Linked DNA regions of Homo sapiens: all the other regions are linked to region 4. The links come from fine-mapping of genetic effects on gene expression. A gene starts in region 4. Each other region holds a variant in brackets. All regions are shown on one strand. Distances are from middle to middle.

What was found.
Region 1: its variant is fine-mapped to the expression of BMERB1 in whole blood (TOPMed, PIP above 0.99). The same link has a PIP of 0.9 or more in T cells and blood mononuclear cells.
Region 2: its variant is fine-mapped to the expression of BMERB1 in skeletal muscle (GTEx, PIP above 0.99).
Region 3: its variant is fine-mapped to the expression of BMERB1 in whole blood (GTEx, PIP above 0.99).

Annotation. Positions count from the first base shown.
Region 1 is chr16:15,505,122-15,511,407 of GRCh38, forward strand. All of the region lies in intron 1 of MPV17L-BMERB1 (MPV17L-BMERB1 readthrough), which reads left to right. The region is part of intron 1 of BMERB1 (bMERB domain containing 1); the gene reads left to right. All of the region lies in intron 2 of LOC105371102 (a long non-coding RNA gene), which reads right to left. Among named protein-coding and RNA genes, the nearest start is that of BMERB1, 74 kb to the left of the region's middle. RefSeq lists an enhancer at 5,000-5,500. The variant G/C (reference allele first, on the strand shown) is at 4,177.
Region 2 is chr16:15,401,364-15,407,600 of GRCh38, forward strand. The region is part of intron 1 of MPV17L-BMERB1 (MPV17L-BMERB1 readthrough); the gene reads left to right. The region is part of intron 2 of MPV17L (MPV17 mitochondrial inner membrane protein like); the gene reads left to right. Among named protein-coding and RNA genes, the nearest start is that of MPV17L-BMERB1, 8.7 kb to the left of the region's middle. The variant G/C (reference allele first, on the strand shown) is at 3,553.
Region 3 is chr16:15,590,907-15,598,643 of GRCh38, forward strand. MARF1 (meiosis regulator and mRNA stability factor 1) reads right to left here. Exons shown (of 27, transcript NM_014647.4): 27 at 3,481-6,031. The coding sequence ends at 5,787. Among named protein-coding and RNA genes, the nearest start is that of MIR6506, 16 kb to the right of the region's middle. RefSeq lists enhancers at 1-819, 166-460. The variant GAAAC/G (reference allele first, on the strand shown) is at 2,746.
Region 4 is chr16:15,431,025-15,438,761 of GRCh38, forward strand. BMERB1 (bMERB domain containing 1) reads left to right here and starts at 3,564. Exons shown (of 6, transcript NM_033201.3): 1 at 3,564-3,735. The coding sequence starts at 3,630. The region is part of intron 1 of MPV17L-BMERB1 (MPV17L-BMERB1 readthrough); the gene reads left to right. RefSeq lists an enhancer at 3,868-4,490.

The DNA.
Region 1 (6,286 bases), 73 kb after region 4:
ATCTTGCCAAGTCATTTTACATCCTATCCAACACAGGTATGAGGCTGACCAAAACGTCGTTTAAGACCTTTCCAACGCAAAGGACTGGAATTCTATTCTACAACAGGGGATGGGATAGGTACCCCCAGTGGTACTTTCATGCTTGTACCATCAAACAGCAATGAATTTCCCTTCAGGAAAGCTACGCATTTTCTCCCCAATTATCAACCTTTTTGATTACCTAAAGGAGAAAGCCACAATTTGGTGCTAGCTTTGTCTTTAATGCCCCTAGTACTTGCTGATTCACCTTGTTAAGAAAGAAAATTCAAGCTTCATTCTGAACCTTAAGCAGGCTATAGTATTTAGCAAGAATTTAACAGTATTGCTTTGTTTCCTCAGGTTTATTTTCATGGCTATTTTCTAATTATGCCAAGTAAGAGTCATTTATTGTCTGTGGATGTCATGGGACATTTCCGTTAGGGAGTTTGAGTAAAAAAAGTCAATGTCGGCCAAGCGCAGTGGCTCACGCCTGTAATCCCAGCACTTTGGGAGGCCGAGGTGGGTGGGTCATGAGGTCAGGAGATCGAGACCATCCTGGCTAACATGGTGAAACCCGTCTCTACTAAAAGTACAAAAAATTAGGCTGGTGTGGTGGTGGGCGCCTGTAGTCCCAGCTACTTGGGAGGCTGAGGCAGGAGAATGGCGTGAATTCAGGAGGCAGAGCTTGCAGTGAGCCAAGATCACGCCACTGCACTCCAGCCTGGGTGACAGAGCGAGACGCCGTTTCAAAAAAAAAAAAAAAAAAGTGAATGTCATGACATACTGAGTGGTATATGACAGAGTACAGAATATGTAGCTGGGGTAAATTCTATGCAGTGTTGAGAGTTTTGGAAACACTGTTTTGTAGCTCTTTTGACCTTAGAGCATGGGCATTGGGATCAGATAGATCTGGGTTTGAGTTTCATTTCTACCACTCATTATAGCACTGCCCCAATTGCCCCTTAGAACTGATGTTTACGGTGTTTTGTTTTGTTTGAATAAACACAAAAATTTACCTTCCTAATCTTTTGTTTTTCTTTTTTCTTTTATTTTTGAGACGGAGTCTTGCTCTGTCACCCAGGCTGGAGTGCCGCGGTGCGATCTCTGCTCACTACAAGCTCCGCCTCCCAGGTTCACACCATTCTCCTGCCTCAGCCTCCCAAGTAGCTGGGACTACAGGTGCCCGCCACCACGCCCGGCTAATTTTTTGTATTTTTAGTAGAGACAGGGTTTCACCGTGTTAGCCAAGATGGTCTCTATCTGACCTTGTGATCCACCTGCCTCAGCCTCCCAAAGTGCTGGGATTACAGGCGTGAGCCACTGTGCCCAGCCCCCTCCTAATCTTAAAATTTTAGAAAGTTACATTCATTTTACCTGAGTTCCTTTCTCAAGAAACTGACCTCTCGGCCTTCCAGATAGTATTAAGGAATTGAAATTTACCAGATCACTATATGTGGACAATGAGATGCCAGACTCCTCAACCATCACGATTGCCTAACCAACCACCTGCATCCTGTTGACCAGATTCTCTTCCTTACCCCTTCCTAATAATTTCCCAGAAAAAAAAAAAAAGAATAGGGATGTATCACAATGTAACACATGGTTGCGTTTCTTCCTTGCTACCTCTAATTTTAGTGGGTTGAGGAGATGGATTTGAGTCTCTTTCCATCTCCTCAGCTGCAGCACCCAATTAAAGCCTTCTCTGGCAATACTCATTGCCTCAGTGATTGGCTTTCTGTGCAGCGAGTAGCAGGATCTAGACAGAACCCTTGATGTTGCTGCAACAATTGAGTGAGTGAGTTTGACCAATCACTTATGACCTCTCTAAGCCTCATTTTATTAATCTAGAAAGAGAGGTTGATATGAGCTAGATCATGGCTCCGGTAAACACCCAAAATGAGCAAGCTCTGGGGCCAGTACTAGGCACGTAAAGTTATAAAGCAGAAGTAAAGGCAGAGGTTGTGCAGGGCACCCTGAGCTTAAATTCCTACCATGACCCCTGATTGGAAAAGATGGGCTAGGAAAGGTATCTCTCTGGTCCCCAGCAGTTTAACCCTCCAAGCTTGTATTTAAACTAGAAGTTTTTAGATCACCAGCCCTCATCCTCTATCACCTCCACCACTCCTGTCCCTGGGTAGCCTTACTTTTTGTTTTGTTTTGAGATCAGTGATTAAACCTGCTGGTGCATACCAGGGCTGCCCGGGTGCTCAGCTCTTGTTTGCTGGTGCCACCGCTCAGGAAGCATGCATCTCCCTGGGGTGGCATTTGGGGATGGGAAGATGGATTTAGCTGCCTCTTCCCCCAGAAGTGACTCAGCTCCTGGAAGCTCAATGACAGCAGTGGCAGTTGGAGCCCTGGGGACGTCTGTGCCTTCATGCTTTGCTGTCTCCACACAGCAAGCAAGCTCTTGCTTGGAAGTGTGCGTGAGAGACTTGTTGTCTCTAGCCAGCTTGAAATGCTCCTCCCGTTTCTTCCCGTGATTTGTCCTCCTCGTGGAGACATTCCTTGGCAGCTGTCGGATGCCTGCCTTCTAGTTGGAAAATGTGATCAAGAAAGGAACAGTCTAGCAGGCTAATTTCTATCACACAAGTTCAGACTGGAAAGAAGCTGACTGTGTGTGATATTCATTTATTCAGGTCCTGTATCAGCATTTTTCACTCTGATCTGAAGACCTCCTTCATTAAGGTCCCTGGACACAACACCCCAACCCAGGTTTATCCTAATCCTTGGAGGTGGAGGCAGGGAATTGTTTCTTAAACAACCTCCCTAGATATTCACCTTGCCCACTGATGTCTGGGAATAACTACTCCCTCTGTGTCTAAAGCAATACAGTCTACTCAGTTTTGTTATGATGATGATGGTACTTACGTAGGGAGGTAGTTCTTACATGAATATGGTTGATTACAACAAGAGCTTTGGAGTAAGAGAGATCTTGTTTTAAATCTCACCTCCATCACTTACTCCCTTTCCTGAGCCTCGACTTCCCCATCTATGAAATGGGATAACAGCACTGACCACCCAGGGCTGTTTTGAGAATCAGATAAGGTAATGCACAGGTGCTGGCATGTGATAAATGCTCGATAAATGTTAGTTATTATCGTTACTGGGTAAACCTGGCTTTCCTAACTTTTAAACTGGAGAGATTACAGTATACCACCCAGGGAAGGGGTTGGCCAACTTTTTCTATAAAGAGCCAGGTAGTGAATATTTGAGGCTTCGTGGGCCAGGGAGTCTCTGTGGCAACTACTCAGTTTTTGCAATGCAAAAGCAGCCATAAATGACATGTAAATGAATGAGCGTGATCAGTGTCCAGAACAACTCTACTTACAACATCAAGCATGGGGCTGCGCTTGGTCCCCTGGCCATAGGGTATCAACCCCTGGCCTAAGGTATTGTGCAGACTAAATGAGATGAGATTCATTCCTGTAATCCCAGCGCTTTGGGAGGCTGAGATGGGCAGATCACTTGAGCTCAGGAGTTGGGAGACCAGCCTGGGCAACATGGCAAAACCCCATCTCTACAAATAGTACAAAAAAAGTCACTGGGTGTGGTGGAGTGAACCTGTAATTTCAGCTACTCGGGAGGCTGAAGTGAGAGGATTGCTTGAGCCCGGGAGGTTGAGGCTGCAGTGAGCCAAGATCATGCCACTGCAATCCAGCCTGGAAGACAGAGCGAGACCCTGCCCCACCAAAAAAAAAAAAAAAAAAAAAAGATGAGGTTTACAATGAGCCCAACACAGTGCCTGATGCAGAGACAGCTCATGGCAAGAAAGGATTCTAACGATTTGTATCTGATTCAAGCTTTAGGCTTCGTTCCTTTCTCTTGGGGAAGAAAAACATCCTTGAGCAAGACTTTTCAACATAGGTCTTTGTTCCATTCTTTGCCCCAAATCCAAGCTAAGCACCTGGAGCCTGGCACCACCGCCTCCATCCTCCCCCGGGGATGGAGGTAAAATGCCAGTTCCTGGGATGTGATTAATTCTCTTCGTCCCACGCCTCGCCCCAGGGTGTGTTGCCGTTTTCAGCATCTGTCCCATGGAAATCAGGTTGCCCATCTGAACTGTGATGAGAAAAACAAGGATACTCATATCGTGGGGTGGTTAACTACGCACTTTCGCAGGCACAAATGCATTCAGCCCTCACCAGGAGGCTGGATTAC[G/C]TGGTTAAGGTCACGTGGTTGTGGAGTGGAAGGGGGGTGGGGGGGGAGAGAGAGAGCACAAGCTGGGTTTGAATACTATCTCTGCAATGATCTGGCTGTGTGATGTTGAACAAGTCACTTTCCTTCTCTAAGCCTCAGAGTCATCTCAGTAAAATAGAGATTAAATGAGATAATACACAGAAAGCCTCCAGCACAGGTAACTATTGAATTCTTGTACAGAGGAGGAAAGTGACGCAAAGACATAAAGGGACTCATTCGAGGTCTTGCGGCTGATGACTAGTGTCAAATGAGGATTTCTGACACTGCCCCCGCCTAGCTGTTTTTTGCCAGACCCCACTTCCCCCATGCACTTCCCTCACCCCCTGGTGACTCCCGCTGGGACCCCTGCTGCTTCCAGCCAAGGCTGTGCTCTGTGTGCAGGATCTCAAGCCCCTGGAGAGAGTGACATTGTTGTCAGGAAGCTTGCAAGGCTGTGGCCATTCATTCTTGTGGGTTTGTGGCCTCCTGAAGTTCATGTGCATCTTAAAACATCAGAATGTGACCTTATTTGGAAATAAGGTCTTTGCAGGGGTAATTCAGATCAGGATCCAGATGAGCTCACATTGGATTAGGGTGGGCCCTAAATCTAATGAGACAGAAAAGAAGACACACAGAGCCACCCGGAGGAAGAACCTGTGAAAACAGAGGCAGAGGTTGAAGTGATGCTATTACATCCAGTGGCAAAAACCGTAATTACTTTTGCACCAACCTAATACTACAAACCAAGGAGCCAGCAGGGGCTGCAAGGGCCAAGAAAAGATCCATCCCTAGAGCCTCTGGAGAGCGCGTGACCCTGCCAACACCTTGGTTTCCGACTTCTGGCTTCCCGAACTCCAAGAGATTAAATTCCTTTTGTTTTAAGCCTCCCCACTGGCCATGAATTGTTATGGCACCACGCTTGACTCTGAGATAGGAATGAATGGGGGGTGTCGGACTTAGAACAGCTGCCTGGACCAGAGGCAGCTGTGAGGGTCAAAAAGCATGAATTTGAAGCCAGACCTGGACTCAGCTCTTTCCCTTGCCAGCGCTGAGCCTTTGTTTCTTTGCGAAAATGAGAACCTACTGAACTTGCTGGCTTATGGCGAGGATTAAAAGAGGTGATGGGCAGAGCAGGTGCGGCGGTCATAACGAGGGCAATTGCAAGCATATATTAAACGTGACGTGCCGGGGTAATTCATCCCTCACATCTGTTTTGGGTGGTGGGCTCCCTTACAGAGGAGAAACAGAGCTGCTGAGAGGTTAACCAACTCCCCAAGGCCACACAGCCAGGGAGGGGCAGAACTGGAACTCAAACCCAGGCCATCTGATCTGGTAAGGCTGGTCTTCTAGCTTGGTAGCATCACAGCACACAGTAGCACTCAGTATTAATTATCTTTTTTTTTTTAGACGTAGTCTCACTCTGTCCCTCAGGCTGTAGTGTAGTGGTATGATCTCGGCTCACTGCAGCCTCTGCCTCCCAGGTTCATGTGGTTCTCGTGCCTCAGTCTCCCAAGCAGCTGGGATTACAGGCACCTGCCAGCATGCCAGGCTAAGTTTTGTATTTTTAGTAGAGACTGGATTTCACCGTGTTGGTCACACTGGTCTCGAACTCCTGACCTCAGGTGATCCGCCCGCTTCGGCCTCTCAAAGTGCTGGGATTACAGGCGTGAGCCACCGTGCCCAGCCAATATTAATATTTCGATCCTATTCCTCCCTCCTTCCCTCCTTTCTCAAGCCTGTCCTCACTGCTTCAATCCCAGGAGCCACCACAGCATGGTGTCAGGGACAGTAGTAGGACCCGAAATTGGATTCCAGGGGCCTTGAAGCATAACCAGATGGCCCCAGGAGATCTTTAGGCAGCACATCACATGAGACATTTCCTACAAATCCTCTGCAAACAGACATCGCTCCCTCTCCCCAAGCCACAGCCTGAGGTGGCTCCTCTGACCTCTCTCCTTCCTGCTTCTCTTTGACACTCCCTCCTCTCCCTCCACTGTGTCTCCCTTTTCACCCTTCCCTGGCAGAGGCTCGGCCAGGTGGCCAGATAATCTTCGGGACCCGCCATCTTTAGAAGGCAAGGAGGAGGTGATTG
Region 2 (6,237 bases), 30 kb before region 4:
ACCTCAACATTAAGTACATTTTTATTAAACTATTCCTAAATTAGAGCTCCAGTTTGGTTGACAGAAGGGTCCAATATTTTGACATAGAAATCTTAAAGTTATTTTGATAGATGTATGAGGAGAGGTTTTAAGAGTATCTGTACTTCTCATGAACTGGAAAGAAATAATGTCTCTGGGCCCGGTGCAGTGGCTCATGCCTGTAATCCCAACACTTGGGAGGCTGAGGCAGGCGGATCACTTGACGTTAGGAGTTTGAAACCAGCCTGGCCAATATGGTGAAACCCTGTTTCTACTAAAAATACAAAAAATAGTCAGGCACGGTGGTGCATGTCTGTAATCCCAGCTACTCAGTAGGCCGAGGCAGGAGAATCACTTGAACCTGGAGACAGGTTGCAGTGAGCCGAGATCGCACCACTGCACTCCAGCCTGGGCAATACAGCAAGACTCCATCTCAAAAAAGAGAAAAAAGAAGAAAAGAAAAGAAATAATATCTCTGAATTTTAGTCCATGTTCTCAGTGATTTCTGACTTTATTATATTAACTCTTAGTAATGATCACAATTTACTTTGTAAATTTTGCAGCCAAAGGGACAACAATTTATTCTGTAAATTTGGGATTCTATTTGCAAAATAGAGATTATAGATTGTGAGTGGCTTAATGGAATCATTCCCACATTCAGAGCCAATGTTTTCAGGTGAGCATCCTGCGGAGTCCTGGTGAAAAGAACTTTAACATCACAAAGGTATTGATAGAGAAGGAGAAGGTTTCCAAGGGTTATTCCAAGGTTTGAAGCAAATCAGCATTTTTACTGTTTGCTCGGCACAAATATATACAGTCCAGTCCAATACATATTTATTCATTGATTCAGTTAATATTTATTGAACAGTGTCCTTAAGGCCTGGCAAAATCAGGGATGGTTTTCATCTCTGCCCTAGAGCATGTTTGATTGCATTCATCACAAGGAGGTAAATCTTTGGGATTACAGAATGTTCGCAGACTGGCCTAGGGCTTCACATGTTCTTCCTTCCCTATCAAAAGCAGTGTTGAGCCACACCCAGCTATTACCTCCACAGCTTCTAGCATCATCTGTTGGATGGTACCAGGCCCCTGAGCCAGCATTACTTGATGGCTAGAGGCAGAGGATGGAGAGGTTTGAAGTCAGAGGCTTCCCCTGAGCCTCTATACTCAGGAACAGTAACTATAAGTGTGTTCAGAACTCTTGTGATTTCTCTTAGGGCAGAAATTGAGGACCCCATGGTGACAACCAAATGTGATTTTCTTCTGGTTTTGTTTTTTGTTTGTGTGTTTTGGTTTTTTTGTTTGTTTGTTTGTTTTTTGAGACGGAGTCTTGCTCCGTAGCCTAGGCTGGAGTGCAGTGGCACTCTGCAACCTTTGCCTCCCGGGTTCAAGCAATTCTCAATTCTCCTGCCTCAGCCTCCTGAGTAGCTGGAATTACAGACTTGCACCACCACATCCAGCTAATTTTTTGTATTTTTCAGTAGAGATAGGGTTTCACCATGTTGGCCAGGTTGGTCTTGAACTCCTGACCTCAGGTGATCCGCCTCCCTCAGCCTCCCAAAGTTCTGGGATTACAGGCATGAATCACCATACCCAGCCACTTCTTCTGTTTTACTTTAGAAAAAGGAACAAGTTTTTCCATTATGTTGTAAAGTCTATGGAGATATGTACATCTAACTTTTTTTTTTTTTTTTTTAAAGAGCAAGGACCGGAGGCAGTAGCTCATGCCTGTGATCCCAACACTTTGGGAGGTGGAGGCGGGTAGATCACAAGGTCAGGAGATCGAGACCATCCTGGCTAACATGGTGAAACCGTGTCTCCACTAAAAATACAACAAATTAGCAGGGCATGGTGGCACAAGCCTGTAGTCCCAGCTACTTGGGAGGCTGAGGCAGGAGAATCACTTGAACCCGGGAGGCAGAGACTGTAGTGAGCTGAGATTGCGCCACTGCACTCCAGCCTGGGCGACAGAGCGAGACTCCGTCTCAAAAAAAAAAAAAAAAAAAAGAGCAAGAAGTAGGCAGCTCACACCTGTAATCCCAGCACTTTGGGAGGCTAAGGCAGGAGGATCACTAGAGCCCAGGAGTTTGAGACCAGCCTGCGCAACCATAGTGAGACCCCATCGCTACAAAAATAAAATAAATTAGCTGGGCATAGTTGCAAGTGTCTGTGGTCCCAGCTGCTCGGGAGGCTGAGATGGGAGGATTGCAAGCCTGGGAGGTCGAGGCTGCAGTAAGCTGTGATTGCACCGCTGCACACCAGCCTGAGTGACAGAGTGAGACCATGGTTCAAAAAAAAAAAAAAAGAGAGCAGGAAGTAGAATTGGGAAAGAAGCTTCAGGCAGGGATTTGTAAATGAACAAAACCACAGGAACATTTGCATACTGTTTAAAAAAAAAAACTGGTTACAATGAGTGAGTCTCATCTACCCTCAGGAGAAGAAAGAGGGCAAACCAGTAGTCTGAAGCCCAGCCCATCTGGAGATTTTTTGGGAAGATTTCCTTTAAAGAGGCAGGATGGCTCACGCCTGTAATCACAGCACTTTGGTAGGCCAAGGCAGGCGGATCATGAGGTCAAGGGATCGAGCCCATCCTCGCCAACTTGATGAAATCCCCTCTCTACTAAAAATACAAAAATTAGCATGAGCCCAGGAGGTCGAGACTGCAGTAAGCTACGATTGTGCCACTGCACTCCAGCCTGGGTAACACAGTGAGACCCTGTCTCAAAATAAAAAAATAAAATAAAATAAAGATCTGAAGTTATGCACATACTGGGGGACAGGTCATTCCAGGGGCAGAAGAGCTGAGTACAGTTGACAATGCGTAAAGCACCATGGTATGCCTGGAGGGGAGAAACCACAGGCAGTTTGGTGTTCACAGAGTATTTGTTGAGCAACTTGGAATGAGTTTGGATCCTGGAGACTGTTGAACACCCAGAGCTGAGGATCTTGAACTTCACAGTTAGGTAATGGCAGCAAAGGAAACCAAAGTGGGTGGTTATCGTGACCAAGTTCACATAAGAAATAAGGAAGCATATCAGGTGTGGTGGCTCACGCCTGTAATCCTAACACTTTGGGAGGCTGAAGCAGGAGGATCCCTTGAAGTTAGGAGTTCAAGACCAGCTTGGGCAACATAGCAAGACCCTGTCTGTATTTAAAAAAATAAACATGGTGGCTCACGCCTGTAATCTCACCACTTTGGGAGGCCAAGGCGAGCAGATCATATGAGGTCAGGAGTTCGAGACCAGCCTGACCAACATGGTGAAACCCTGTCTCTACTAAAAATACAAAAAATTAGCCAGGTATGGTGGTGAGTGCCTGTAATCCCAGCTACTCGGGAGGCTGAGGCAGGAGAATCACTTGAACCCGGGAGACGGAGATTGTAGTGAGCTGAGATTGCACCACTGCACTCCAGCCTGGGTGACAGAGCAAGACTCCATCTCAAAACAAACAAACAAACAAAAAAGAAATGAGGTGAGTTCAGCTTGGGAAATGTTGAATGTCAGATGCCTTTGGCCTATTCAGAGGGAGATTGCC[G/C]AAGCACAGAGGAGAGTTCATGGCAGGGTTTAATTATTTTTAGCGCTCACATGTCCCAGATTCGGCCAGTGGGAGTTCCCCCAAGCTGGTTCCTGTGTCCTGTGCATCACCCATCTTCTTTCTCCTTTACTTCTTTCTTAAGCCACTTCCTTTCTGGCATGACAGCGTGTTCCAGGATCATCTTGTACTTGCACCTGCCCTGCCCTGGCCCTAGAATCAGCCAATTCTTTGAGGCATCCTGCTTCCTTTTAGTGGGGGAATGATTTGAGAACAAAATATACTACTACATGATACTACATTCTGACAAGAAAAAAAACACAGCCATAAGAAATAAAGCCATGGCCAGGCACAGTGGCTCCTGTAATCCTAACCCTTTGGGTGGCGGAGGTTGGAGGATTGTTTGGGGTCAGGAATTCAAGACCAACCTGGCCCGCATAGTGAGGCCTCGTCTGTATTAAGAAAAAAAAAAAAAAGAAAGAAGGAAAGCCATGTTTGGATAAGTTTAGTCTTCTGATTATTTTTGCTAAAGTTTTAATTTTTTTTTTTTTTTTGAGACAGAGTCTCGTTCTGTTGCCCAGGCTGGAGTGCAATGGTGCAGTCTCAGCTCACTGCAACCTCTGCCTCCCGAATTCAAGCGACTCTCCTGCCTCAGCCTCTTGAGTAGCTGAGATTACAGGTTCCTGCAATCACGTCCTGCTAATTTTTATTTTTAGTAGACACAGGGTTTCTACATGTTGGTCAGGCTGGTCTCAAACTCACGACTTCAGGTGATCTGCCTGCCTTGGCCTCCCAAAGTGCAGGGATTACAGGGGTATATTTTATATTTAAAGCATATTTAACAATTAAGGGCCAGGCTCGGTGTCTCACGCCTGTAATCCCAGCACTTTGGGAGGCTGAGGTGGGCAGATCACCTGAGCTCGGGAATTTGAGATGCACAACAAGAGCGAAACTCCGTCTCAAAAAAAATAAATAAATATAAAATATACATTATGGCCGGGCATGGTGGCTCACGCCTGTAATCCCAGCACGTTGGGAGGCCAAGGCGGGCAGATCACCTGAGGTCAGGAGTTCGAGACCAGCCTGGCCAATATCATGAAACCTTGTCTCTACTAAAAATACAAAATTTAGCCAGGCATGGTCGTGTGCACCTGTAATCCCAGCTACTCGGAGGCTGAGGCAGGAGAATCACTTGAACCCAGGAGGTGGAGGTTGCAGTGAGCCAAGATCGCACCATTGCACTCCAGCCTGGGCAACAAGAGCAAAACTCCATCTCAAAAAATATATATATATACATACACATATACGTATATATGTGTATATATACGTATATATGTATATGTATACACACATTATATGTAATATCTACTTTTAAATATAAACATAAATATTATAAAGCTTTTATTGCAATTGTTCATTTTAGAAACTTCAGAAAATACAAATTAGTAAAAAGAAGAAAATAAGTCTGTAATACCACTTTTAAGGACTATTTTGAAAACCTCTAGCTGTTTTTTGAGATAAATTTACATACCAAGACTTTTTTTTAAAAAATCATAATGATGACTTTTTCATAGGACTGTGTAGGATAAAGCTTGTGAAATGTCTATCTAACATATTTTGTAATATATGAAAATTTCAGCTAAACTTGTTCTATAGCATCACATGGTTTCAATATATTATTAGAAAATCATTCCATAAACAATGGTTTGGTATATAGTTTCAACAATTCAAGGCTGGGCACAGTGGCTCATGCCTGTAATCCTACCACTTTGGGAGGCCGAGGCAGGCAAATCACCTGAGGTCAGGAGTTCAAGACCAGCCTGGCCAACATGGTAAAACCCTGTCTCTACTAAAAATACAAAAATTAGCCGAGCATGGTGTCAGGCACCTGTGATCCCAGCTACTCAGGAAGCTGAGGCAGGAGAACTGCTTGAACCTAGGAGGCAGATGTTGCAGTGAGCCAAGATCTTGCCACTGCACTCCAGACTAAGCGACAGAATGAGATTCCATCTCAAACAAAATAAATAAATAAAATAATTCAGCAGGATGAGGTGGCTCATGCCTATAACCCCAGCACTTTGGGAGGCTGCAGTGGGACTACTGCTTTTGCCTGGGAGTTCAAGACCAGCCTGGGCAACATAGAGATACCATGTCTCAGAAAAAAAAAAATTAATTTAAAAAAAAAGAATTCATTGATGATTCTGTATTTACAAATATATTCCTGCATCATTTGTTCATGGTAACCAGGAAATTGCAATGCATATATACATGCTGTCATTTCCAAAGCCGCTGTCTTCCAGAATTGGTACTGATTCTAGTAGACTTTTCATTCTGGTGTTAAAAATATAATTAATATAGGAATGTCTTCTACCTAATAGCTTTTTTCCCCACAACTCCCCAACCCCCTCACTCTAGAGGCCTTAAGTAGTCTAAGTTAATCAGCTTAGTCTGAAATATAATACTACCTAGGCATCTTGTTGGCCTAGTATTTCTTACTCTTTTATGGAATGAACTGTGCAATTGTTTTGTGTGGTTAAAAGGTATTCTAGGTCAGGTATAGTGGCTCACACCTGTAATCCCAGCACTTTGGGATGCCGAGGTGGTGGATCACCTGAGGTCGGGAGTTCGAGACCAGCCTGGCCAACATGGTGAAAACCCGTCTCTACTAAAAATACAAAAATTAGCCAG
Region 3 (7,737 bases), 160 kb after region 4:
GATAATGGGAATAACATTTATTGTAGCTTATCTCTATGCCTTGAGCAATGTGCTCACACTGGCTGGTTCCCTCCTCACATCAGCCTGATGAGTCAGATCCTGTTATTACTTCTCACTTTACAGATGAGGAAGTAGCAGTAAATCCATTACCCTTTTCAAGCGGAGGTTGCAAGAGGTTGCAAGCGGAGGCAGAATAAACACTTGAAACAGTGAGTCAGATCCTGTTATCACTTCTCACTTTACAGATGAGGAAGTGGCAGTAAATCCACTGCCCACGGTCCCAGGGGTTGTTAGTGACAGAGTCATCATTCATCTCCCTCCCTCCCCACCACTGTAGCCCCAATTGTTCTTTCTCTTCCCATCGGAGGGATTTAAACAGGTCTCTCCCATTTAAAAGCAAACAGGGCTGGACACGGTGGCTCACGCCTGTAATCCCAGCACTTTGGGAGGCCGAGGCGGGCAAATCACGAGATCAGGAGATTGAGACCATCCTGGCTAACATGGTGAAAACCCATCTGTACTAAAAATACAAAAAAATTACCTGGGCATGGTGGTGGGCGCCTGTGGTCCCAGCTACTTGGGAGGCTGAGGCAGGAGAATCGCTTGAACCTGGGAGGCAGAGGTTGCAGTGAGCCGAGATTGCGCCACTGCACTCCAGTCTGGAGACACAGCAAGACTTTGTCTCAAAACACACACACACACACACACACACACACACACACAACACAACACAACAACAACAACAACAAAAAAAGTGTCCTCTTCCTTTTAGAGAATTTAAAAAACAGGGTGAAACCCCATGTCTACTAAAAATACAAAAATTAGCAAGTGTGGTGGCACATGCTTGTAATCCCAGCTACCCGGAAGGCTAAGGCAGGAGAATCGGTTGAAACCAGGAGGCGGAGGTTGCAAAGAGCCGAGATCGCACCATTGCACTCCAGCCTGGGCAACAGAGTGAGACTCCATCTCGGAAAAAAAAAGTGGGGGCTTGGGGGTTCCGGGCATGGTTGACTGTGTGACTATATTATATCTATACATAATATATAGATATATATCTATATATAATATATAGATATCTATATATTATATATAGATATATATCTCTATTATATATAATAGATATATCTATTTATATATAGATATTATAGAGACATCTATATCTATATCTATATATAATATCTATATTATATTACGCCTGTAATCCCCGCACTTTGGGAGGCCGAGGCAAGTGAACCACTTGAGGCCAGGAGTTTGAGACGAGCCAGAGCAACATGGCAAAACCCCGTCTCAAAAAAAATTAGCCAGGTGTGGTGGCAGCATCTGTAATCCCAGCTGTTCGGAGGCTGAGGCATGAGAATCGCTTGAACCCGGTAGGAGGTTGCAGTGAGCCGAGATCGTGCCACTGCACCCCAGTCTGGGCGATAGAGTGAGACTCTGTCTCAAAAAAAAAAAAAATGTATTTCCTGATTCTTGCCACACCTGCCCTTGATGCATCAGACTCTGGCTGCTGAAATACCAAGGGCGGCGACCCTGCAGCCCCAGTGTGGATTTGTCTGCACTTGCTGATACCAGAAACTGCAGTGGGGGCAGGTGGGTGGTAGGAGCGGGGGTTCCCTCATGCCCAGGCCCTGCACCTGGGAAGCCTTTGGAGGCCATCACATGAGCTGCCTGAGGCGGATGGAAGAGACGGTGCCAAGCAGGCCCAATATGTTCCCTGCTGGCCCTGGTACTGCTCCCCTGCGGATGCTCCTGGTTGGTTCACCACCTCGTGCGGAGTGAGGAGCTGAGCAGCCCAGCCACTGAGCAGGATTTCCCTCTAAGAACGGCCCCTTCCACCCTGCAATGCCTTCTTCCTCTGCACCTCAGCTCCCCCACTTCCAAGGCGTTCCTTCCCGGAACGTGTGTATTCTTCTCTTCATCTTGCTAAGGAAAGTTCTGGCTCTTGGTGCTCTGGCTTGGCACCTTCTAAGCTCTCTAGCCCTTTTCCCCCCGCCCCCCCCCCCCCCAAAAAAAAGCGTTCTCAGCCAGGCGTGGTGGCTCATGCCTGTAATTCCAGCACTTTGGGAGGCTGAGCCCAGAGGATCACTTGAGCTCAGGAGTTCAAAACTAGCCTGGCCAACATGGTGAAACCTCATCTCTACTAAAAATACAAAAATTTGCCAGTGTGATGGTGCACATATGTAATCCCAGCTACTCGGGAGGCTGAGACAGGACAATCGCTTGAACCTGGGAGGTGGAGGTTGCAGTGAGCTGAGATTATGCCACTGCACTCCAGCCTGGGTGACAGAGTGAGACTGTCTCAAAAAACCAAAAAACAAAACAAAAAACCACTCAGGCTTAGCCATTTCTCTGGGGTCTTCATTTCCTTATGAAGACTCTCGCAAAACTGGTATGAAGTAAAATTTGTTTGCTTTTTTCCTATTAATGTCTTTGTCAGTTTAAGGCCCAGCCAGGGACACTAGGAGAATTGAGGAAGTTTTGCCGCCCACCGCCCCCCCCCCCAGCAATGGGGACAGCAGGTGGGTGGAGGCCGCTGAGGGCTTCTGCGCCATGACTCACCCTCTGCCCATGGAAGCAGCTAGAAAGTGAAGGTGAATCCCAAAGCGCAACGCTCCTTCTGGCAAAGGGAACAGAGAGGGAACAGATCTTCTTCAATCAGCGCAGCCCCCTCTGCTACGGACAGGTCTGCTCTCCCCCAGACAGCTGTCTTCTAGGCCCCCACCTCTGAATCACCTTCCTAGGTGG[GAAAC/G]AAACAAAGATAAATGCAAAGCCACCGTTCCAGCCCCAGTCCACACCTAACAAGACCTCCTGACGCCGCTCAAAAGGGGCACGATGGCTACTCAACTTTTTCTGCACAAATTTGCCATCGTGAAATGTTTGGAAAGGTCTTTAGCAGCTTTTAACATTGCTGAACTTGAAAAAAATGTCATCAAGAAGCAATTTACTCAAGTCTCTTCTGGGTCCTTTTAAATTCTTGCCAGAGGGTGCTGGTGGCAGGGGTGACGGGGTAATGGCGGTCTCAGGGGATGGGAGGGCTTCACAACTGTATCTGTGGAATAACTCTTTTCCAAATTGGCTTATTCAAAAAGCATGCTTAGCAGTGACCAAAAACGAGACAGCGGGCACGCTGGATTTCTTTCACAAGAAGAGAGAGCCTAGGAATTAATAGAGTTTTCTAACTGGAAGGTTTTTGTGGTTACTGTATTTTCCCACATGTAATTATAAGCTGGAACAAAGGCTGGAAAACTTGGAGGATCCTGACGACGAAGGGCCCACCATCCAGCCACCTGCTTCGGCGTGTGCTGAGTTTAAAAGGCCTCTAAGATGTAGACGGATTTACTCTCCACCTCACAATTCTATTTCCAGAAGGGGAGAGAAGTTGAGGAGACCCAAAATGAAAGATGGCAGAACTGTATTGGTTTGTAATTCCTCCCCACAGACAGACAGACAGACAAAACCACTCACTTGGGAAACTCAAAATAGATGCTCGCTTGTAAAGTTTATTGACAACTGTTTGGTCCCAACACACAAAACAGCACTTGAACCACAACAAAAGTGTTCAAACAAAGTAGACAACTAAGAAAAACATCTCTTTCCCCCAAACCCAATCCAAAACAAACAGTGCAAGATGGGAAAGGGGGTTTTGGTGATAACTTTTGTCATTTTTTTAAACAGATAAATTTAATCCGGTATATCTTTCCACCCAGAAATAAAGAATTACATTGTCTTAATGCTCAAACATCATTTTACCACATCATTTAATTAAGCCTCTGGATAAAAAAATAGATAGCAATTGGACTGGCCATTGTGGAGTACATTATGAACACAATGTGCTTCCGAAGTCTTCTCTCTCATTTTCAGACAGCAATTGTTAAGAGTCACACACACGTCCCAGACCTAAGCAGCAACTCCAGTGAATGGTACTCAGACACACTCACGGGACAGCACAGAACTTGATTCTTCTTTGTCTGTTGCCCAAAGAACCTGTTCTTTGAGTCTGTTCCAGGTGACTTGTAATGATACCTCTTACGGTTTTAAAGTCCACCACTCTTTACATGCTAGCAGAACTGAAGTCCAAGCGTGCAAACTCAGCCTTATGAAATCTTAGAATAAGGCAACTGATGTTCTCAACACCAATTATTATTACTTTGTTTAAAAGCTCCTTTAAAAAAAATTGCACATTTGCATTTCACTTCCTGTAACACTATGTCTGTAGAGGAAATGCCTTCAGGAGGATTCGGAGAGTGCCATAATACTTACAGGGTTTTTTCCATGGTGTTCTGTCTTGACTGGGGCCATGTGTTGAGAACTGGGAGTCACTGGCTTCATTTAAAAGATTTGGGGAACAAAAAATCTGACTTGTAAAAATCTCTCTATAGCCCTTATTTTGTGGCATTTTATCAAAATGCTATGAAATCAGAGTCCATTTTCTGGCTTTCTAGAAGTTACCAAATATAAACATTTCCCCAAAAGAAACCATCTAACTAGTGGAAGACCTTACGCCAACAGGTTCTTTCTGCTCTATGAATGAATCCGCCTTTTTTGCCGGACAAATACAATCCATTGTAAATGTCAGGTTTCTCTAGAGGGGGGTGAGAGGCCACCCGTCAGCGGACACCTCAGGCACCTAGAGAGGAAGGCCATTCCACACCAGACGCCACAAGAAACCCAGAGATGCTTCCAACAGCGAGAAGTAACGAGAGTAAAATCAGACACGATTAAAAGATGCTGAGCTGACATACACACACATAAAGCTTCCCAGCTACCGATACCAGCTTTAAAATTACAATAACAAGGTTAAGTGGATCAACCTTGGCCTTCCTATGTGTAGGTAGAATTCCTGTCTCTTCCCAGTGGAAATCGTATTGATCCCGCTGCTGCTGAAGCACCTCCCCACTCAGCTCTGATTTGTAATTTATGCACTTGATGCATATTTTAGAAAATCAGGCTCTTTCCAATGCTGCCTCTCGACACACAATAATGTGTGTTGTAATCCAAATGCTGACTTTAAATCCATGACATCGAGACCATCTCCTTTTCCTTAACCTAACCCATATCAAACTGGAACACAGAAGGGAAGCTTCAAACATCCTCAACTTTCTAGAAAGCTCCTAAATGGAACCCCAAAGTAGAAACGTTTAAAAAAATTTGTGATGAAGCCACTTTTGTCAACTACAGACATAGTTTAAATAAAAAACAAGGCACACTTACAAGTCACATGGAAGCCAGGAACCTTCACATTCCAACCTGAAAATACACTCCGAACCCCTCGCCTACCCTTCTCCTTTGGTGTGTGAACACACAGGCTAGCGGGACAGGCTTTGCTTCAAAGACATGCCACGCACTGGGTTAATACTGTCGGAAACACCAGTAAGCAAAGGCTGAGAGACTCTATTATGCTACATGTAGGATGACACCACCGACGTGGCTCAATGGAAGCAAAACCGCTTCCTGCTAGTTGAGTTTTTAGTGCTTTCTTCTTTTGGAACACCATTGTATTTCATAATAGTTACTAAAAATTTGGTAAAATATATTAAGGATTCTTTAACAAATGCCACAAGTTCTTCAAATAATTGAAAAAAGAAAGAAAAAGGAAGAAGAAAAGAAAGACTTCAGCTCAAAGCTGTGTTCAATGGAAAAGAAAAACATGATAGAACACAGGTAAGATGAAGTCAATGGCTTCGGGGGGTTTTCATGACACAGAAAAGGATGTATTTTTGAAACCCACTTTTGTGTGCAGAATCAGACAGTGTTTTCCCATCCTAATTCTATATTCCAAATGGGAGTTAAAGCTTGGTTATAGGTGCTAAGGAAAAGTTGGCTGCCAATTTGACTCTATTTTTGGGTTGCTTTTTGGCCGGGCTTTCCACGGGGTCCTTGCTGAGCAGTGACTCGGAGGTTTCCGAGGAGGGGCAGGGAGGCACGGGGACAGCTGCTGAGATGCAGGACGAGCTGGAGTCAGAGGTCAGAGTTTTGCTCTTTCCTGGTATTGGAATCTCCATTTTTTCTTCTTGGTTTAAAATCATAATTTCTGTAAACACAGAAAAGCAAACAGATTCAGATCCAGGAACTGTAAGAAGTGTGGGTTTTCTCTTCCTTGCTCATATTTTCTCAAAAGATAATAATAGTAATAAAAAGCTTCTAAATGCTACATCTATGCCACAGTTTACATATGAGTTGTGTGGCCAGTGAACTTGGCACAGAAATCAAGTATCTATAAACTGCATCCCACCTCTCCCACTGGATTACAAAGTTGGAAAGATCTCTATTTTGAGCTATAAATGAATGAGCAAAGGTTAAAACTTTTTGTTTTTCCATTTTGGATTCTCTGCCCATTCATTCTGCCTGCCAGATATTAAGGACCCATAAAGCTATCCACGACTTAGAGACTTCCTGAGGCGGGAGGCCGTGGGTGGTAGGGGGTGGGGTCGGAGCATCTGGGTGTCAGGGAGCTCCTGGCCTGCTCCATTTAGAGAGGACCTATGCTCCCCATGGGTCTATTACCGGGGATAAGGAAGGACTACGCAGAGTGAGAATTACCCTCAGAACCCAGGAAGTTGAGCACAGCCAGCTTTCCCACAGTGCTTCTGGACTGCCATTTCTGTGGCTGAGCCACATGTAATTCACCTGCTCTACACACAGGGCCACGCTGCTTGAAAGAGATGCATCATTATGCCTTAGACTCCCACTGCATAGGGCACAGGGCTCCTGCTCCCAAAGGCCCATGGAAGGTGAGAGTGGCAGAGGGGACAGCAGAGCCAGCTCCCTGCCTAGGCTGACCCTCAAGAGAAGAGCGGCTGACAGAACTGCCCACAGTGTTTTAATTATTTTCCTCTCTTGTCCGGTGCATGCAGTTGAACTTGCCCAGACTGAAGGCACAAAGGCCACAACCCCACAAACGAGCTAACATCAATGTGCCACCAACCCTAGGGGGGCACTGCACAGGAGCAGGGCATGGTCTAGGTCTGACTGCACAGGCTGGTTCTATCCGCAGGCAGTTACTTCCCCATCTCCTATTTTCCAAGTCAACAGCCTCAGTTCTTTTCCTGGGCAACAGTGCTGAACGCTGCCAAGAACAACCAAGATGGTAAAAGCCAAGCCAGGAGTCCACGGGTTGTTCCTGGTGACCTGGAAAGCAGCACCAGCAGTGGGGAGGAGTTGGGTTCCAACAGATGAAGAGCAGGGAGGGATCTGTACAGGGCAGATGGGCCATCCTCTCCAGAGGCCAGGAGACACCGCAGGACAAGAGGGCTTGGGTTCCAATGCCGGCTCTGCCCTTGCTAGCCCAGCAGCCCGGGGCCACTGCCTCTCTAGTGACGGCACCAGCTGTGCCTTAGTCACGCAGCCTGTGGAATAAAGCAGCTGCCTTTATTCCACGGCTCTCACCTGGAGCCGTGGTAAGAGTTAAATGTGATGGTGTCTGTCAGCCCTGAGCACAGGGTCAGTGCCAATGCCTGCACTAGGCTGGGACTCAGTGTGCTCAGCTTCCTGTCTGTTATATCACTGGGCAGAGTCCGGGGCTCCAGCCACAGACACCTCCCTCCATTCACCCCTTTATAAAGCCCTTGGGCCCTCTGGACCCCCACCATGGGTGACGTGTACATCTGGTGACAGGTGTGCCTGAGAGCAGCTGAACCTTCACAAAGTCTGGGAGAGCAGAAGCCCAGGAGGCCCCACCCACCCCTGTGGACTCGCCCACAGCCCCGAGCCACCAGCCCTCCAGAGCTGCCAAATCGC
Region 4 (7,737 bases):
AGTTCACTGCAATCTCTGCCTCCCGGGTTCAAGCGATTCTCCTGCCTCAGTCTCCTGAGTAGCTGGGATTACGGGCATGTGCCATCACGCCTGGCTAATTTTTGAATTTTTTTAGCACAGACGAGGTTTTGCCATGTTGGGCTGGTCTTGAACCCCTGACCTCAGGTGATCCGCCCACCTCAGCCTCCTAAAGTGCTAGGATTACAGGCGTGAGTCACCACGCCCAGCCATTATCTCTCATTTTCTAAAGTGGTAGTACCATTTTATACTCCGAACAGCAATAAATTGTAGTTACATTCTTACTAACTGCTAACTCATTTATTTACTAGCATCTGGACTAACATTTGGTATTGTCAGTCTTTTTAATTTTAGTCATTCTGGTAAGGGTGTAGTGCCCACCAGCCATCTCCAACAGATTTTAACATATATGCTTCAGATCTCTTTTAAGAAATATAAATTTAAATATTCATTAGTGAATCTAGTAAGGGATGTGTGTGCGTGTGTATATATATATATATTGTATATATACACACACATATACAAGAAAATAACATACATATTATATAAAATAACGTATATATACACATACTGTATATATACACACACAAACTATATATATATATGTGTGTGTGTGTGTATTTTGGAGACAGGGTCTCACTCTGTCATCTAGGTTGGAGTAGAGTGGTGTGGTCTTGCCTCACTGTAGCCTCGACCTCCCAGGCCCAAGCAGTCCTCCTACCTCAGCCTCCTGAGTATCTGGAATTATAGGTGTGTGCCACCACACCTGGTTAATGTTTTAATTTTTGTAGAGATGGAAAACTGCTTTGCTGCCCAGGCTGGTCTCGAACTCCTGAGCTCAAGGATTCCTCCCACCTTAGCCTCCCAAAGTGCTGGGATTATAGGCATGAGCCACCGCACCTGGCCAAGGTCTGTATTTTTCTTATTGTACTAAACTTGCAACTTTTCTGTAGATTTAAAAATTTTCAAAATACTGTAAATAGTTTAAAAATATATAAATTTTAGATATAGCTGAAACTAACTACTTACCCTTTCCCAGCCTCCTAAAGTAATTACTATCCTGAATGTAATGTTTATTGTTTTTTTTTTTTTTTTTTGAGACAGCGTCTCACTGTCACTGAGGCTGGAGTGCAGTGTCATGATCTCAGTTCACTGCAACCTCCGTCCCACGGGTTCAAGTGATTCTCCTGCCTCAACCTCCTGAGTAGCTGGAATTACAGGTGTGCGCCACCAGGCCCGGCTAATTTTTTTTTTTTTTTTTTTTTTTGTATTTTTAGTAGAGACGGGGTTTCAGCATGTTGGCCAGGCTGGTCTCGAACTCCTGACCTCAGACTAACCGCCCGCCTCAGCCTCCCAAAGTGCTGGGATTACAGGCGTGAGCCACTGTGCCTGGCCTGGTACAACTAATTTTAAAAGCAGGTTGACACTCTAGTCCAACTGGCAGATGTGCATACCCCATGCCATTGTAATTTTTCCCCCTAGAAAAACTCCTATTCAGTCGTACAGGGAAATGAGTATAAAAACATTTGCTGCTGCCATGTTTGTAATTGTGGACAATTGGGAATAATCTTTATACCTCATCAATGAAAAAATAGACCAATTATGGTTCATTCATGTAGAATACTATACAGTAGACTATGAACCAGAGTTACATGAATCAGAATTCGTATTTCTCAAAAGCATAATGTGGGCCGGGCACGGTGGCTCACGCCTGTAATCCTAGCACTTTGGCAGGCTGAGGCAGGTGGATCACTTGAGCCCAGGAATTCAAGACCAGCCTGAGCAACACAGTGAAAACCTGTCTCTATCTTTTTAAAAGGAAGAAAAGCATATTGTGGAACAACAACAGAAAAAAGCAACTTGCAGAATTATAAAGTATGATATCATTTGTATAAATTATAAGAAAATGTTAAATAGCGCTATTATATATAATTTGTAGAGTTATACATATATACCTGAGAACAATAAACATTACATTCATGCAGCCAGGCACAGTGGCTCATTCCTGTAGTCTCAGCACTTTGGGAGACCAAGGCGGGCAGATCACTTGAGCTCAGGAGTTCGAGACCAGCCTGGCCAACATGGTGAAACCACATCTCCATTAAAAATACAAAAAATTAGCTGGGCATGGTGGCACGCCTGTAGTCGCAGCTACTCAGGAGCTTGAACCCAGGAGGTGGAGGTTTCAGTGAGCCGAGACTATGCCACTGCACTCCAGCCTGGGTGACAGAGAGAAAAAAACAGTTGTACCAATTTATACTCCCACTAGCATTAGATAAAAGTTCAAATTATGCCAGGCATGGTGTCTCACATCTGTAACCCCAGCATTTTTGGACTCTGTCTCAAAAAAAAAATCCACATCTTTTACAACACATGATTGTTAGATTTTTTAGTTTTTGCCTATCGGATGATATATTCTTATTTACATTTTCATTTTCCTTATTACTAAGGGGGTTGAGCAGCTTCTCACATTAGGCCTTCCTCCTCTGCCCACATGACATGACTATTCATATTCTTTCCCTGTTTCCTACTGGGATATCATTTTCTTTTTTTCGTTTCTTTTCTTTTTTTGAGACGGAGTTTTCCTCTTGTTGCCCAGGCTGGAGTGCAATGGCATGATCTCGGATGACTGAAACCTCTGCCTCCCAGGTTCAAGCGATTCTCCTGCCTCAGCCTCCCGAGTAGCTGGAATTACAGGCCTGCGCCATCACAGCTGGCTAATTTTTGTATTTTCAGTAAAGATGGGGTTTCACCATGTTGGCCAGGCTAGTCTCAAACTCCTGGCCTCAAGTGATCCACCCACCTCGGCCTCCCAAAGTGCTGGGATTACAGGCATGAGCCATCGTGCCCAGGCACTGCCATGGTGTTTTTTGTTTGTTTGTTTGTTTGTTTTTAAAGATAAACCTCTGGGGTTTCTGGAAAGTAAAGCCCCATGCTCCAAACAGCTCTGCTATACCTGTGTGCAAAATATTTTCATCTCTCTCTCTCTCTCCCCAAAGTGCATGCAAACACATATGGAACTGACATAGGCATCCACTGTCGCACTTCAAATTAAACAGACGCACACGACAGATATTCTCACAGAAAAGCAGTCAGCCAAGCCCAGAACCCATAGATCTAGGTCCACACTCACGCCTCTGCATGCTCCCCAGAAAGACGGATGCATCGCCCGCAGGTAGAGACGGGCTCACCAATCCCACTCAAAACCCGCTGCCGGCTTACAGCTCGCAAGCCGCCCACAGTGCCAGCCCCATGCCAAGCATCACTAGGGGCTCTAGAATAGGCAGGGGCCTTGTTCTCACTTCCTTTGTGTTGCTTTTATTTTAGTTGTTTTGTTTGTTGTTTTTCTTAGAGTTATCACCTGCCCCTCTGTCTCCCTACCCAGCCCCCAAGCCTCCCCTCCAAGCCTCCACTGCGCATGTGCCGTGCATCCCTGCCCCTTCTGGGTACCCGTAGGCGCTCCCGGGCGCTGGCGGCGGCGGAGGAGAGGGAGCAGCGTCACGGGCGCCCGGCCCGTTAAAACGCTGCTGGCTGGAGCCACCTCCCTCCCTGCAGCCCGCAACGGGAATGGAGTAAAGGGAGACCCGTCGACCTGGCCACGGGGATCAGCGATGGAATTAAAGCAATCTTTGTCCACCCATCTGGAAGCCGAGAAGCCTCTGAGGCGCTATGGGGCGGTGGAGGAGACGGCTTGGAAAACGGAGAGACTGGGGAGAAGTGAGTACTGGGGCGGGGGGCGGGGGGCCGGGGACAGCTGGGGATCCATGCGCCTGCGCGGGTGGTCGCGGGAGCGCGAGGAACGCCAGCAGTGGACCCAGGGAAGCGCCCCCGCAGCGGGGCTGGCAGCTCAGGGGGATACGCAGCTCTGCGCAGCGACGCGCTCTCCCCGCGAACAAAAGGGGGGGACCCTCCGGGCTGAGCCTCACTGGGAGGGTTGGGAGATGGCCAGGCAGCTAAGGCAGGAGCCTGGGCTCGACTTAGGAGTCCCGGATCCGTCAGCTCGCAGCTGGTCCTGTGAAGTCGGGTCTCTCCCACAGCCCAGGGAGGAGGATCCTCTCTCCGCCTGGGATGCGCCAGGGCGCTGGAGACGCGGGACCGTCCTGGAAAGCGCCCACGTCCCTGGAGAGGGGGGAGTGTCTGCTGGTTTTCCGCTTGCTTTCCTACCCCCTGCGTGAGGTTTCGGAGCGCACCTGAAATTCCCAGCTTTTCCTCCCTCGCCTTCCTTGGGTCGGGGTGGGAGGCTTGGGGCGGCAAAAGGGTCAAAAGGCACACACCGTTCTCTTTTCTCTCTTGACTCAGTTAAAGTCTGCTTGGGCACAACTCTAGAAGGCAGTTTCGAAATAGACCGGCTGTATTTATTTACTGGTTCTCTCTGCGGTGTTTGGATGTCAACATTTCTAAGTAAACGAAGGATTTTGTTTTTCATTAATAGGATACAATAGTTGAAACTCCTGCCCTCAAAGTGTAGAGGCAGCGTCAGGGGCTCCAGGGTCACTGGAGGTCCCTGCAAACCCGGGGGCTCCCCAAAGCCGCTGCTCTCACATGGCTTGCCCACCAGGCTGGGAAGGAGAGGTCCTTCTCAGGGACCCGGCAGCTTCCTGCCTCGGCTCTGGGTCACTGCTCCGCGCTCTGCCCCAGCACGGATCTCTGAGCGATGTAGGGCTAAAGTATTGTGAATGTGATCTTATTCTGTCCTCACCTGGTGGAAAATTGTGTGTGCGCGCTTTCTTTCTCTATACCTGTAATTATGGATTTAGAAAATCTTCCTAGAAGGGCTCAACTGTGTTCTGATTCTGACGGGTTGAAGTTGAAATCACAATCCAATGTCTTAGTGGTTCATGGGCTAGGATGGATGTCATAGCACTGCCAACCTCTTTCCTTTTCTTTTTTTTTCTCCCTTTTTAACCTTGGTCTTTCTTTCTAGTTCATCCTTTCAAGACCCAATGACTTGGTGCTTTGGCATAATATCAGGGCGTCAGGGCTGAGGGTCTCTGTTTCTTTCTTTAATTTTTAAGTGCACATAGTGGGTGTCCATATTTATGGAATACATGAGATATTTTGATACAGGCATACAATGTGTAATAATCACATCAGGGTAAACGGGGTATCCAAAACCTCAAGCATTTATCCTTTTTTTTGTGTTACAAACAATCCAATTACACTCCTTTTTTAAAAAAGCCCAGCTGTGTGACTAATTATACTCTTTTAGTTTAGCTTTTTTTTTTTTTTTTTTGAGACGGAGTTTCGCTCTTGTTGCCCAGACTGGAGTGCAATGACACAATCTCGGCTCACTGCGACCTCCACTTCCTGGGTTCAAGCGATTCTCCTGCCTCAGCCTCCAGAGTAGCTGAGATTACAGGTGCTCGCCACCATGCCTGGCTAACTTTTGTATTTTTAGTAGAGATGGGGTTTCACCATGTTGGGCAGGCTGGTCCCGAACTCCTGACCTCAGGTGATCGGCCTGCCCTGGCCTCCCAAAGTGCCGGGATTACAGGTGTGAGGCACCCCACCTGCCCTCTTTTAGTTATTTTTAAATGTACAATAAATTGTTGACTGTAGTCATCGTGTTGTGCTATCAGATACTAGATCTTATTCATTCTATCTACCTATATTTTTGTACCCATTAACCATCTCTGTGTCCCCCCATCCCAATACCCTCCCCAGCCTCTGGTAACCATCATTCTACTCTGTATCTCCATGAGGGTCTCTTGTTTCTTACAAGCTCAAAATAATCTCAACAATGGCTGCCTTTTATTGCTAGATGACCATGTGCTGAGAACTCTAAATGCATCATTTCATTTAGTCCCCTCAACAACCTCCTGCAGTACTAAGATTTATAAATTTAAATCTTGCCTAGATTTAAAAAAACATTTTAAAATAAAAATTTTAAAACAAAACATTTTAAAATAAAAAATTTAAATATAAATTTAAAATCTTGCATAGATTTAAAAAAACAAAACAAAACTGGGACTTGTTAGGTGATCTGACAGTTAAGTGGCAGAACCAGGATTTGAACCCCGGTCTGTTGGACCCCAGAGCCTGCTTTTAACATGAAGGTTTATTGCTTTCATGGTTTCAGAAAACTTCCTAAGTCTATTGAGATAGTCACAGAACATGCTCAGTGATTTTATAATTATGTGGCAGCCCTGTTGCTCTCTGAAGCTCACAGAGGCCTTAAAAAAATGCTGGGTCCACGCAGAATGGAAGCTGTTCACAAGAGTGCTGCTTTGAATCCTCACTCTGTGCCTTGCTGGCTATGTGACTTTAGGAGTATTGCTAAGCCTCACTCTGCCTTCATTTTCTGAAAATAGAGATTATGTCTTTATTGTGTATACTAAATAAGATGATACATATAGTACTCAAGGTTAAGTGCTCAATACGTATTGTTCACTTCCATTCGGTTACTGCACAACATTTATAGACAGAACCTGCTTTTACTCTTTGCAAGGAATTATGTAAATATTGGTCAATTCTTCAATAATGCCCTTGTAGCTTTTTATATCTTAACATTTTATGAGAAAAAATTTGAAACATGCAGGAAAATTGCAGCAAGCACCCAATTTACAGCAGTTTCAATCCTGAAATTTTTGTACTTCTGGGTCCTATGCTGCACACTGTTAAAAGTCAGGTATAAGGCCAGGCGCATTGGCTCACGCCTGCAATCCCAGCACTTTGGGAGGCCGAGGCGGGCGGATCACAAGGTCAGGAGATCAAGACCATCCTGGCTAACACGGTGAAACCCCATCTATACTAGAAATACAAAAAATTAGCTGGGTGTGGCAGTGGGCGCCTATTGTCCCAGCTGCCGGGGAGGCTGACACAGGAGAATGGCGTGAACCTGGGAGGCGGAGCTTGCAGTGAGCCGAGATTGCACCACTGCACTCCAGCCTGGGTGACAGAGTGAGACTCCCTCTCAAAAAAAAAGAGTCTGGTATAAAGTCCTTCTTACCCTCTGTTTCAAACCATCAAAGACTCAGTCTTGCTTCCTAGTCAAAGGCAAGAGGAACAGCTCCTGATCTGTACTTGCGTGGATCCTCAAATCTGGTTTTTCTTTTCTTTTTTGAGATGGAGTCTCACTCTGTCCCCCAGGCTGGAGTGCAGTGGCATGATCTCAGCTCACTGCAACCTCCGCCTCCCAGGTTCAAGCCATTCTCCTGCCTCAGCCTCCCAAGTAGCTGGGACTACAGGCGCCTGCCACCACGCTCAACTAATTTTTGTAGTTTTAGTAGAGAGGGGTTTTCACTATGTTGGCCAGGCTGGTCTTGAACTCCTGACCTTAGGTGATCCACCCACCTCAGCCTTCCAAAGTGCTGGGATTACAGGCATGAGCCACCACACCTGGCGAAAGCTGAAATTCTTAAAACGTGGATCCAGAGTCTAACTTTTGAAACTTGAATCTGGCAAGTTTTATTTTCTAGACTATTTTTTTTTTTTTTTGAGACAGGGTCTTGCTCTGTCGCCCAGGCTGGAGTGCAGTGGCACAATCAGCTCACTGCAACATCTGCCTCCCAGGTTCAAGCAATTCTCCCGCCTCAGCCTCCCGAGTAGCTGGGATTACAGGCATGCACCACCACGTCCGGCTAATTTTTGTATTTTTACTAGAGATGGGGTTTCACCATGTTGGCCAGGCTGGTCTCGAACTCCTGGCCTCAAGTGATCTGCCCTCCTTGGCCTCCCAAAGGGCCGTGATTACAGATGTGAGCTACCATGCCTGGGCCT